Linked DNA regions of Homo sapiens: region 2 is linked to region 1. Evidence: fine-mapped expression QTL. Tissue or cell type: whole blood. Region 1 holds a variant in brackets; the other region holds the start of a gene. All regions are shown on one strand. Distances are from middle to middle.

Region 1 (6,147 bases):
CACACCCAGCAAGTGCCCAGTGATTGGCAGCTGTGGTTCTTGCTGGGGCTGCTTCTTTGAAAGTCCCCTTCTCCTTTGGCCCAGCTCAACCACCACCTCCTCCTGGAAGCCTCCCCCATCTCTTCAGCTGGTTGGGATATCCTCATTCTTGACTTTTCTGAATAACATTTGTTGGGCCCTTTCTGTGTGCCCAGCATAGGCTGGATGGTCAGTCCACAGCCTCCTTCAACCTTCTCAAACAGCCCGTGAGAAAGGGACTGTGCTGGTCCCAGGTTAGAGATGCGGGACTGGGGGCTCAGGGAGGTTAAGGGGCTCAGGCTGGGGCCACCTCGCTGCGAGCCCTCTCCTTTCGCAGCACAGGCTCTGGGAGGGTTGTTTACCCAGAGGCCTGCAGGGAGGCACAGGGGGAAGCTGGGGCCTCGGGATCTGGGGAGGGAAGGAAGGCCGGGGAAAGTGGCCCGGAGAGAGAGGAAACAGTCTCCGGAAGCTGACAGGCTGCAAGACCGTCCCCTCCTGCTGCCTCCTGCCTGGAAAACATGTCCCAGAGTGGATGAGGCCTGTCCCCTTTAGGACTCAGGTCTGCAGGGGCCTGAGGGTCGCAGAGGGCTCCAGTGAGCTCTCCCTCTAATGCAGGGGGTGCAGGGGACTGACACCAGGGCAGTCGGGCACAGTCTTCCCTGGCTCTGAAGTGGGACCCTTCCCTCGGCCCAGTCCTCAGCATCTGTGGACTGGGCCTTGGCAATAGCCTCCTCAAGGGTCTCCTGCCTCCCTTGCCTCCTGTCCTGCCTCCCCTGGCCCCCAGTGACATTGTTCTCAAATGCAGACCTGGCCCAGTCTCTCCCTGCTCTAAAACTTCCCTGGCTTCCAGCATCCATGGATGAGGCCCTCACAGAGCCCCACAGCCTCACAGCCCAGCACCTGCCTTCTACTCTTTCTCCCCAGCCCCTCCACCAACCAAACCCCAGGGCCCTTTGAAAAATGTGCCTCTTCCTTAAGGCAGCTAGAAAGTTGTCTGAATAACCGCAGATCTACAATACCTGCAACGTGAAAGGTCCTCCCTGGGGCTGTGCAGAGCACCCCTCACCTGCACAGCCATAACTTGGCCTGGACGAGCCTCTCTAGCTCCCTCAAGATTCCCAGCAAAGTCCTGCGCTTTCAGGCTTCCAAACCTTTGCACAGGCTCACCCCCTCCAGCCTTGGAATACTCCCCCTCCTGTCAGGGTTAGGGTGATAAAGACGCCTCCTCCATGAAGCTCCCCACTTGGGTGTCCCAAGGGGAATTAATCTGTCTTCTCTGTGCTCCCAAAGCACACAGCTCCACCACGACAGGCCTCACTTTATGCTCTTTTGTGGATTTGAGCTGCAGATCCCGGTGCCTGTCCCAGCTTTGCTCCTCCCATGCCGTGTGGACTTGGCCTTTCTGAGCCTTTGTCTGGGTTGGTCAAGTGCACAGCAGGGCTGCCTCCCAGCAGGAGCCTTGGCCCTGATGCCCTTGGCTGTGTGCCTGGCAGCTGTTCGACCGGCACCTGTGCGTGCGCCAGCTGCGGTACTCAGGAATGATGGAGACCATCCGAATCCGCCGAGCTGGCTACCCCATCCGCTACAGCTTCGTAGAGTTTGTGGAGCGGTACCGTGTGCTGCTGCCAGGTGTGAAGCCGGCCTACAAGCAGGTACAGGGCTGAGTGCACAGAGGGCAGGAGGGGAGGGTCCCAGCTTTGGCTGGGCAAGGGTCCCAATTTTCTTATCAGGACCATGGGCGGGGCTTGACATCTGCTTGACCTCTCAGGTGCAGCACGGAAAATTGGGGTTCAGGTATTGGAATGCATCAGTGGGCTTCAGTTGCCATGTTCAGCTGGTGAGGACTTCACACATGGTGGTGTAAGGAACAAGACCAGGGCTGCCACGCGGGCCCTGGATGTCAGTTGTGAGAAAGGGTTTTGCAATCATACCATCCAGCTGAGCTAAGGAGAAAACTGGGGCTCAGAGAAGGCAGGACCCAGCTGAGGTCACACTTCGAGTCAGGGGCAGAGCTCGGGAAGAGCCCTGCCTCTCAGCCTCGGGGACACTCCGGAGGCCTTCCCACTGGAGAGGCTGTCCATTCCCTTGTGTTCCCCATCCTCACTCCAGGGCGACCTCCGCGGGACTTGCCAGCGCATGGCTGAGGCTGTGCTGGGCACCCACGATGACTGGCAGATAGGCAAAACCAAGATCTTTCTGAAGGTGAGCACAGATGCCTTCCCTGGGCTGCCCTGGGGGGGCTGTAAATTCCCATGATGTGGGCTGGGGTGCTCGGGAGAGGGAGGCAGTGCTGGGGCTTTGAGATCCTTTCTGCCGGGCTGTGGTGTGGCTGGAGGAGCAGGTGGGATCTGGCCTCTCTGGTGGGGAAGGGTAATTTGGTGTTTGAGATCATCTACAACCTGGGAGTGGGGTCAGAGCACTGACCACAGGTTACAAAGCACATGCCAGGGGCGGGCTGGCTGTTAGGCCCACAGCAGGGAGGCAGGGGTGCTGCTTGCCTTGGGGCCCTTTCTGAGCCTCATTTTCCCATCTGTAAATTGGGGTGTGCCTGTGTGGGGTCTCTTGAGTGTATCTTTAGGTTCCTTCCTGTGGTTTCCTGCCTGGCAGGGCCCATCCCGTGCTGGGGTCCGCAGCATGCCACCTGTCCGTCACTCTGTAGGGAGCTCAGCTCCCATTGCTGCCTGGGCAGCTGGGGAAGGAAGCAGGAAGCAAGGCCTGCGGGAGTCGCGGAGTCACAGCCTTGGAGACATGGCTGGGAGCTGGCAGTGGCAGGGCAGCCGCAGCAGGGACAGTGCGAGCTCCCAGTGCTGGGCTTCCCCATTTGCATTTCC[G/A]CTGTGCTAGATTTCTGGCTGTCCCGGATGACAGGGCTCCTTCCTCTGGTGTGGGGGGTGGGGCCTGGGCACTCCAAGGACAGCTGCAGGAGGGACAAGAACCAGCTCCGAACTGGAGGGAGCCTGCGGCCTCTTCTAATTCCTCTCCAGCCAAGGGGCTTCAGGCTAGGCCCTTTCTCTCCTTGCACCTGCATTTCCTCATCAGCAAGATGTGATGAATGTTCCCTGCCTGTGCCTCCCACAGCTGTCAGCCAGAAAGCACATTCCATGTGCCAGGCCCTGGGTGGGTGCTTTTCATCCATGAGCTCATTTAATCCTTGAAACAGTCCTGTGGAGAAGGAAATATTATACCCATTTCACAGGCTCAGAGAGAAGTGAGTTGCCTGAAACCAGGCAGCTAGGAAGCAGGGAGCAGGACTTCTAGTCTGGGAAGGTCTGATGCCCAGCCCCTGTGTGGGCAAAGTGGGGAAGGCAGGAATCATGATGGCATCTAGTACCAGGGAACTCGGAGGAGCTCCATCAGCCCCTGACTTACACTGCTAGGCTCTTCCGATATGGCCTTGGTTTTGAGAGGCCAAACATGCTCATTCATCCATTCATTCATTCAGAATGCCTCGGCTGAGCATCTCCTCTGTCAGGGCCCTGTGTGTCTGTGATTATCTGATGGATTTGGCTCCCTCATGAGACTCTACCCTCCCCAAGGGCAGGGGCCATGTCTCCCTGGTTCATTGTGGCAGCCCCTCCCCTCCCCAGCATCTAGCACAGTGCCAGCACATGGAGGTGTTCAATTCATATATATTAAGTGAACCAATGAAGTTTTGTCCAACTACAGTGAGGGTTGGGGTCTTGGATGAGGAGGAGAGAGGGCTGAAAAAGTTGGCAGACACCCTGGATCATGGGTGGCCTTGAATGCCAGGGTGAGGAACCCAGGCTCGACGTGGGGAACCATGAGGTGTCACTGTAGGGTCACCATCCAGGTTGTGTTGAGGAGGGTCCCTCTGGCTGCTTGTGAAGGAGCGCCAGAGAGGGAGCCAGGAGGCCGCGAGACCTTTAGTTAGGAGGCTGCTGCCAAGGTTCGGGAGAAGAATGGCAACAGCCCAGCCCAGGTGAGGGACTGATGTGACAGGGACGTCTAGAAGCAGGGGGCTTGGGCAGATTGACGATAGGGAAGAAGCTGGTGTGTGTGCATACTGGGCCTTCCGACCCCATCCAGAGAGATTAGGCACCTTCTGCTCCATTTGTCCTGCCTGGACCTCTGGGAAACAGCCACAACCCCTGTCTGTCCTGGTGGCTGTGGGAGGCTGCCCCAGGGGCCAGAGCCAGCTGGGAGCTCATGGGGCCCAACTGAGTTCTTGACCTGTGCTCCCAGTGAAGGAAGAGCAGCCCCCACTGGGACTGAGCAGGTGGTCCTAGAGGAGACCTTGTGGGGCGCTGCTCAGGAGCTCTGCCTCCTAGGACCACCATGACATGCTGCTGGAAGTGGAGCGGGACAAAGCCATCACCGACAGAGTCATCCTCCTTCAGAAAGTCATCCGGGGATTCAAAGACAGGTGCGTGTTCCCACCAGCTCCTCCCCTCCTCAGCCCACATACAGGTGTACGTGTGGTGTTTGGCTCTCCTCTGCTCTGCCCGCATGAACACTAGGAAAAAAACGTGTTCACCTATGAAACAAGTGCACACATGCATGGCATGCACACATGATCATGTAAACACAGAGGAACATAGATACATGATTTACATGGACCCATTGTGCCACGTAAGCCAAATAATGCAATACATTCACCTACATATGCACATGCACACGTAGATACATGAGACTCACATGTGGACCCACTGTTCATGTCAGATGCTGATGAAATTTTGCAAAGAGGAAATTTGAGATTTTATAAATTATTAATACAAAATGTGTCTCATATTCTATCTAAGGGATATGTGTACACGTGACAATTCACAAATGTGCAGGACTGACTCCAAAGTGTGATTAAAGCTCTGCAAAAATTCCACAATGCACCCCTTTGCAGTTCATATGGTCACTCTCTCCCTTCTTCCACTCGTCCACCCACCTACCTATCCATCCGTCCGTTCACCCACCCACCTACCCATCCATCCATCCATCCATCTGCCCACCTATTCACCCATCCATCCATCCATCCATCCACCCGCCCACACACCCACCTAGTCACTCATCCATCCACCTATCCACCCACACATTCATCCATCAATTCACCCACCAACCCATCCACCATCCATCCATCCACCCACCCACCCATCCATTCACTCATCAGTCCACCCACCCATCCACCTACCCATTCATTCCTCCATTCATCCATTCACCCACCCACTCCCACAGTTGCTCATTTGCTTATGTGTGTCTCCAAGCATTGACTTATTGGCTCACTTGCATACTTGCACACCCATCCTTCGCTCTTCCTTTATTTATTTCTACATTCAGCAGACCCCTGCTGTCTGTGCATGGTCTCTGTCCTCTATCAGGCTGAAGATGACTGTTCTCCTATAGAAGCAGCCTGCTGTGTGCAGGGGGAACAGCACTGGGCTCACTTAGGGTCAGTCAGAAGACATGGGCTCTAGTCCCAACCTATCAAGTCTCAGTTGCCTCATGTATAAACTGAGGAAGTTAGACTGTTCAAAGCTTTTGATCTTTATATTATTTTAATTACTTATTTTTTCATACATTTATTCATTCAACAAATACCTTTTGAATGTCTACCTTCATGGGCTTATGTGACAGGCCTGTGGGGCAGGCAGGGCAGGCATTATTCTACACATTGTACGGATGAGGAAGCTGAGGCACAGAAGTTATGTGCCTTGCCCAAGGTCATATAGCTAGGAAGTCACAGAGCTGGGACTCAGCGTGCCCTCCTGATCCCAAACCCACCTGTACCCTGGCTGCCTCTGGACACTGCTCACCCGCGCCACTACTGCTGTTTCAGGTCTAACTTTCTGAAGCTGAAGAACGCTGCCACACTGATCCAGAGGCACTGGCGGGGTCACAACTGTAGGAAGAACTACGGGCTGGTGAGCCTCCCCATGGGCTGCTCTTGCCCAAACAGGCCTTTGAACCCAGCCTTGCTGCCATGGCAGTGGGACTGGCCTGCACCCAGGCAGCACAGCCTGGCCTCGTTGGCCTCCTGCCACTGCCCTGGCCAGCCACTACCATTCCTCCAGACCGAAGTCTGGATCTGGCTCTTGTGGCTTCTTCCAACTGGCCAGCAATGTTTGTTGCTCTCCTTCTGGAGTGTTTTTGGGGGTTGGGAGCACTCTGGGATTATTAGAGATC
Region 2 (5,501 bases), 48 kb before region 1:
AAGTGGCAGACCTGTGGGCTTCAGCCTCGGGGCCGGGGCATGCCTGCCACCCCCTGACAAAAACAGGTTCCACAGTGCTACCCTTGCTTCCTGCCCCTTGAGGTGGGCCAGGCTGGCTCCTGGCTATGCAGGGATCTCTGGTCCCCAGGAGACCTTGGGGGCCAGGCAGGTAAGGATCAGGGGTGATAGGGGAGAGCAATTACTTTGTTCACTGTATGCACCCGCGGGGGCCTGGGAGTCCCCATTTGCAGGTGGGTAGGGCCTCCAGCCCACACCACCCAGACCTAGGCTTCCCTCTTCTCAGGATCCACCACAGGGTTAGGGGACAGGAAGCCTGTTCTATTCTCAATAAATCTTACAAAATTCCAAAAAGACTTTCCTGTGTCCCTCTGTCCCCCTGGGGGGAAGGGACAATGGAGGAATATTCCCCAGGCCTGGGCGACTGTCCGCTGGTCAGAGGGAAGGCCCCGCTGCCTGCCCGGTGCACCTGTGAGCTGAGATTGTGGGGATCATTCAGTCATTCCTTTATTCAGTAGATCTGTACGGGGCTGGCTTTGTGCCAAGGCCTGCCCCGGGCACCTGGGATGTGGGGAACCAGGCATAGCAATCCCTGCTCTGGGACAGTCTACAAACGAGCAGCGAGAACAAAGACATACTCTGGTCATGACAGACACTACCCCGCACATTACTGATGGGGCAGTGTGGGCCTGCTGGGTTAGAGACGGCCTACTCCCTGATCTGTGCATGAAGGGCTGGGAAGAGGAGATGGGCCTTCGGGGCACAGGAAGGTGTGGGGGGACCAGAGCGGAGGCTGCTGAGGGCAGATGCAGGCATCTAGGGCCAGGAAGCTGGTGTGGTGGTGGGGAGAAGCAGGGTTGGGATGACTGAAAGCAGAGTGGACGACTCAATGAAAAACGACTTGGGAGACGGGGTGAGTGCAGTGTGAGGGCAAAGTGAACCGAGATGCCTCGCTTTCTTCATGGGACTGAGAAATGGGTATTGCAAATCGTGTGATCTGCTTAGCATAGTGCCTGGTTCATAGCATGGCTGAACACAATGTAGCTGTCATCCTGGTGTTTGGAGGCCGCCCTGTCCCCCATAACCTGCCCACCTCTCTGCCCCATTCCCACAGCTCACTGCATTTTGTCCCTGCTGCCAGTCGTGTGCCATGGGCTCTCCTGTGCTCCCCCGGGGTCTCATTTCCCCATCCGTGTAGGGCTGACGCCACTGGCCCCGCCCAGCCTGGGAGGATGGAGAGGGGGGACTTGAGGAGTGGCCAGTACTGGGTTTCGGCAGCAGGTGCAAATCCCAGGTGGGGACTGTGTTCCAGGGACTCCTGGACTCCTGTTAGGCCAGCAGGCTAAGGGGCAGACGGCATCCTGGGGTCTTCCTGGGACAGGGTCGTCGGGTCTGAGGGGACCCAGGCCCTAGCAGAAGCTGACTCCTGTCACGGTCACTTCCCAGCGGTGCTCAGCCCGCCTGACGGAAGCAGCTGGGCAGTGGGGCCTGTGACCAGCAGGCGGCGCTGGCGAGCTATAGCGCCCCTTTGGGCCCCCACCCCACCTTCTGGGCAGCTTCCCTGCAGACACCCCAGTTATGGGGGCTAGGGACCCAAAAGAGACATCCTTCTGCCACCCAGAGCTGCCCTGGCGAGGTGCACTATGGGGCCGCCGACAGCTGCGTGGCTGCCGAGGGCGGAAAGGAGAAACTGTCATGTCCCGATAGGGCCGCGCGAGGTCTCCATCCTCGACAACGCTAATAACAAAGACGTGTGCTCCTCTTTGCTTGGTTCCCCCCACTCCTTTAAATCACAGATTTCACTTCAGTTTATCTGTGTCGCTGTCACACGTGGGGTGGCTCCCAGTCAGCTGGTTTGGCAAAGTTTCTGGATGATTACGGAATAACATGTGTCCCCAACCCGCAGAGCAGGTTGTGGGGGCAATGTTGCATTGACCAGCGTCAGAGAACACACATCAGAGGCAAGGGTGGGTGTGCAGGAGGGAGAAGGCGCAGAAGGCAGGGCTTTAGCTCAGCACTCTCCCTCCTGCCATGCTCTGCCTGACCGTTCCCTCTCTGAGTCCCAAACAGCCAGGTAGAGGAGGAAGAAATGGGGCTGAGACCCCAGCACATCAGTGATTAAGTCAGGATCAGGTGCGGTTTCCTGCTCAGGTGCTGAGACAGCAGGCGGTGTCCTGCAAACAACAGGAGGCACCTGAAGCTAGCCTGGGGGGCCCACGCCCAGGTGCGGTGCATTCAGCAGCACAGCCAGAGACAGACCCCAATGACCCCGCCTCCCTGTCGGCAGCCAGTGCTCTGCACAGAGCCCTGAGCAGCCTCTGGACATTAGTCCCAGCCCCAGCACGGCCCGTCCCCCACGCTGATGTCACCGCACCCAGACCTTGGAGGCCCCCTCCGGCTCCGCCTCCTGGGAGAAGGCTCTGGAGTGAGGAGGGGAGGGCAGCAGTGCTGGCTGGACAGCTGCTCTGGGCAGGAGAGAGAGGGAGAGACAAGAGACACACACAGAGAGACGGCGAGGAAGGGAAAGACCCAGAGGGACGCCTAGAACGAGACTTGGAGCCAGACAGAGGAAGAGGGGACGTGTGTTTGCAGACTGGCTGGGCCCGTGACCCAGCTTCCTGAGTCCTCCGTGCAGGTGGCAGCTGTACCAGGCTGGCAGGTCACTGAGAGTGGGCAGCTGGGCCCCAGGTAAGGATGGGCTGCCCACTGTCCTGGGCATTGGGAGGGGTTTGGATGTGGAGGAGTCATGGACTTGAGCTACCTCTAGAGCCTCTGCCCCACAGCCACTTGCTCCTGGGACTGGGCTTCCTGCCACCCTTGAGGGCTCAGCCACCACAGCCACTGAATGAAACTGTCCCGAGCCTGGGAAGATGGATGTGTGTCCCCTGGAGGAGGGAAGAGCCAAGGAGCATGTTGTCCATCGAATCTTCTCTGAGCTGGGGCTGGGGTTAGTGGCATCCTGGGGCCAGGGGAATAGACATGCTGTGGTGGCAGAGAGAAGAGTCCGTTCTCTCTGTCTCCTTTGCTTTCTCTCTGACACTCTTTATCTCCGTTTTTGGATAAGTCACTTCCTTCCTCTATGCCCCAAATATCCCATCTGTGAAATGGGAGTATGAAGCCCCAACAGCCAGGGTTGTAGTGGGGAAGAGGTAAAATCAGGTATAGACATAGAAATACAAATACAGTCTATGCCCCCTGTTGTCAGTTGGAAAAGAAATTAACTTGAAGGTGGTCTAGTTCTCATTTTTAGAAATGAAATGTCTGTCTGGTCATTTTAAAATGTGGCCCTTAAATTTCACGCCCTCACCACTCTCCCCCATCCCTTGGAGCCCCATGTCTCTAGTGAAAGCACTGGCTCTGCCCCCAGCCCTCATGGCTCATGCTGGCATAGGGCGCCTGCTCCACAGCCTGGGCACCATCTTCAGACAAGTGCCCGGTGGCAACTGCCTGCTGGCCCTGTTGAATCCACATCTCCACCAGGCATCCAGACTAGTTCAGGTCTCTGGAAGGACTGTGGGTTTGCTGTGTCCCAGAGCTCCAGGGCAGGGGTCAGGGCTCGGATGTCGGGCAGTGTCATGGGCAGAGGATCGAATGCCCCGGCGGCTCTGAATGGGCCCTTGTGAAAAATTGATGCGCATTCTAGGAGACAGGTTGGGAGCCAGAGGGGCCTCATACCAGGGTCTGTAGGCTGGGGCTGCCTTTTAAGCTCCTTCCTGAGGCCGTCTCTGGGTCTGGCCCTGTGCTGGACAAGGCTGGAGACAAGGCAATGTCTCAGACCCTCTCCCATTGGCCACATCCTGCCCTGGATCAACTCGCCAACTTTGGGGGCAGAGGTGGGACTGACCCTTACCCTGACAACATAATGCATATAGTCAAAATGGGATAAAGGGGAATATAGAGGCTCTTGGCAGCTTGGGAGTGGTCAGGGAAGGCTTCCTGGAGGAGGTATCATCTGAACTGAGCCATGAACCATAAGTGGAAATTCACTAGTCAAAATTTCAGGTAGAAGGGCCAGTGTGTGAAGGCCAGGAGATGGCAAGAGCTGGCGTATTTCAGGAACAGTGAGTCACTGAGGATGTCCAAGTATAAGGGTAGGAAAGGGAGTGAGCAGTGAGAGAAAAGACCGAGGCATCAGCAGGGGCCAGATTGTGCTGGGCCTAGCGGGGCGGGCCCGGGCCCGGGCCCAGGCCCAGGTGCGGTGCATTCAGCAGCACAGCCAGAGACAGACCCCAATGACCCTGCCTCCCCGTCAGCAGCCAGTGCTCTGCACAGAGCCATCCTGAGGGCAGTGGGTGCTCTTGAGAGGTTTCAGGCAGGGTGTGCTGTGAGCAGGTCATGCCCAGCCCTTGACCTTCTGCTCAGTCAGGCTTGTCCTTGTCACCCACATTCCTGGGGCAGTCCCTAAGCTGAGTGCCGGAGATTAAGTCCTAGTCCTAAATTTGCTCTGGCTAGCTGTGTGACCCTGGGCAAGTCTTGGTCCCTCTCTGGGCCCCTTTGCCGTAGGTCCCTGGTGGGGCCAGACTTGCTACTTTCTAGGAGCCCTTTGGGAATCTCTGAATGACAGTGGCTGAGAGAAGAATTCAGCTGCTCTGGGCAGTGGTGCTGGTGACAGTGGCTGAGGCTCAGGTCACACAGGCTGGGCAGTGGTCAGAGGGAGAGAAGCCAAGGAGGGTTCCCTTGAGGGAGGAGGAGCTGGGGCTTTGGGAGGAGCCCAGGTGACCCCAGCCAGGCTCAAGGCTTCCAGGGCTGGCCTGCCCAGAAGCATGACATGGTCTCTCTCCCTGCAGAACTGTGCCTGGCCCAGTGGGCAGCAGGAGCTCCTGACTTGGGACCATGGTGATTCTTCAGCAGGTCAGTGTTCCCACCTCTTTGGGTGGCCTGTCCTCCCCAGGCCATATCCCCTCATCCATATGCTTACCCGTGGGACACCCTCCCCAGGGTGTTCTCTTGGAAAATTCCTGCCTAGGCTTCCAAACCCAGCCCTCCAGGCTGAGGCCTAGTCTGAAACCTGTTCCCTCTGCTGTGCCAGCTGGGGTTTCCTTCTCTCACTGGCTCACCCCACTGGGCAGAAATGAGTTTATTTACACACATCTCTGGATCCCAGGCAGTGGAACAGCATGTGCAAAGGCCCAGGTGTGGGAAGGTCCCTGGGGAAGAGGAGAGGAGGTTGGCAAGGCTCCCAAAGCCAGGCCAGGAAGGGCCCTGAGCCCAACTTATTCTTAGGGCCTTGGGGAGCAGTGACTGGAGGGCGGGGGGTGACAAGGCTTGAGCTGGAGCCCCCTGGGATTTTATGGGAAGAAGCAGAGGTGCTGGCCCGAGCTGAGTCCTCCAGCCCCCCTTCCTACTGAGGGCCACAGTGGCCTCTGACCCTCAGCCCTTCCCCGTGATCAGTCTGAGGCTCTAATGAGCTCCTGGCCTCCAGAGCAGGAGCCAGGAATGTGGGCCCTGAGCCAGGTGGGCCTGGCAGCAGGCCGTAGGGCTTG

The links. PIP is the estimated chance that this variant, and not a neighbour inherited with it, causes the effect.
Region 2: MYO7A starts here. The variant in region 1 is fine-mapped to the expression of MYO7A in whole blood (TOPMed, PIP above 0.99). The same link has a PIP of 0.9 or more in blood mononuclear cells, lung, monocytes, tibial artery, tibial nerve and transverse colon.

The regions. Positions count from the first base shown.
Region 1 is chr11:77,173,245-77,179,391 of GRCh38, forward strand. MYO7A (myosin VIIA) reads left to right here. Exons shown (of 49, transcript NM_000260.4): 17 at 1,512-1,670; 18 at 2,128-2,220; 19 at 4,305-4,399; 20 at 5,801-5,885. Among named protein-coding and RNA genes, the nearest start is that of MYO7A, 48 kb to the left of the region's middle. The variant G/A (reference allele first, on the strand shown) is at 2,850.
Region 2 is chr11:77,125,784-77,131,284 of GRCh38, forward strand. MYO7A (myosin VIIA) reads left to right here and starts at 2,463. Exons shown (of 49, transcript NM_000260.4): 1 at 2,463-2,706; 2 at 4,806-4,869. The coding sequence starts at 4,852. It overlaps CAPN5 (calpain 5), which reads left to right. Exons shown (of 13, transcript NM_004055.5): 13 at 1-372. RefSeq lists enhancers at 1,149-1,871, 1,872-2,595, 3,318-4,041, 5,487-5,501.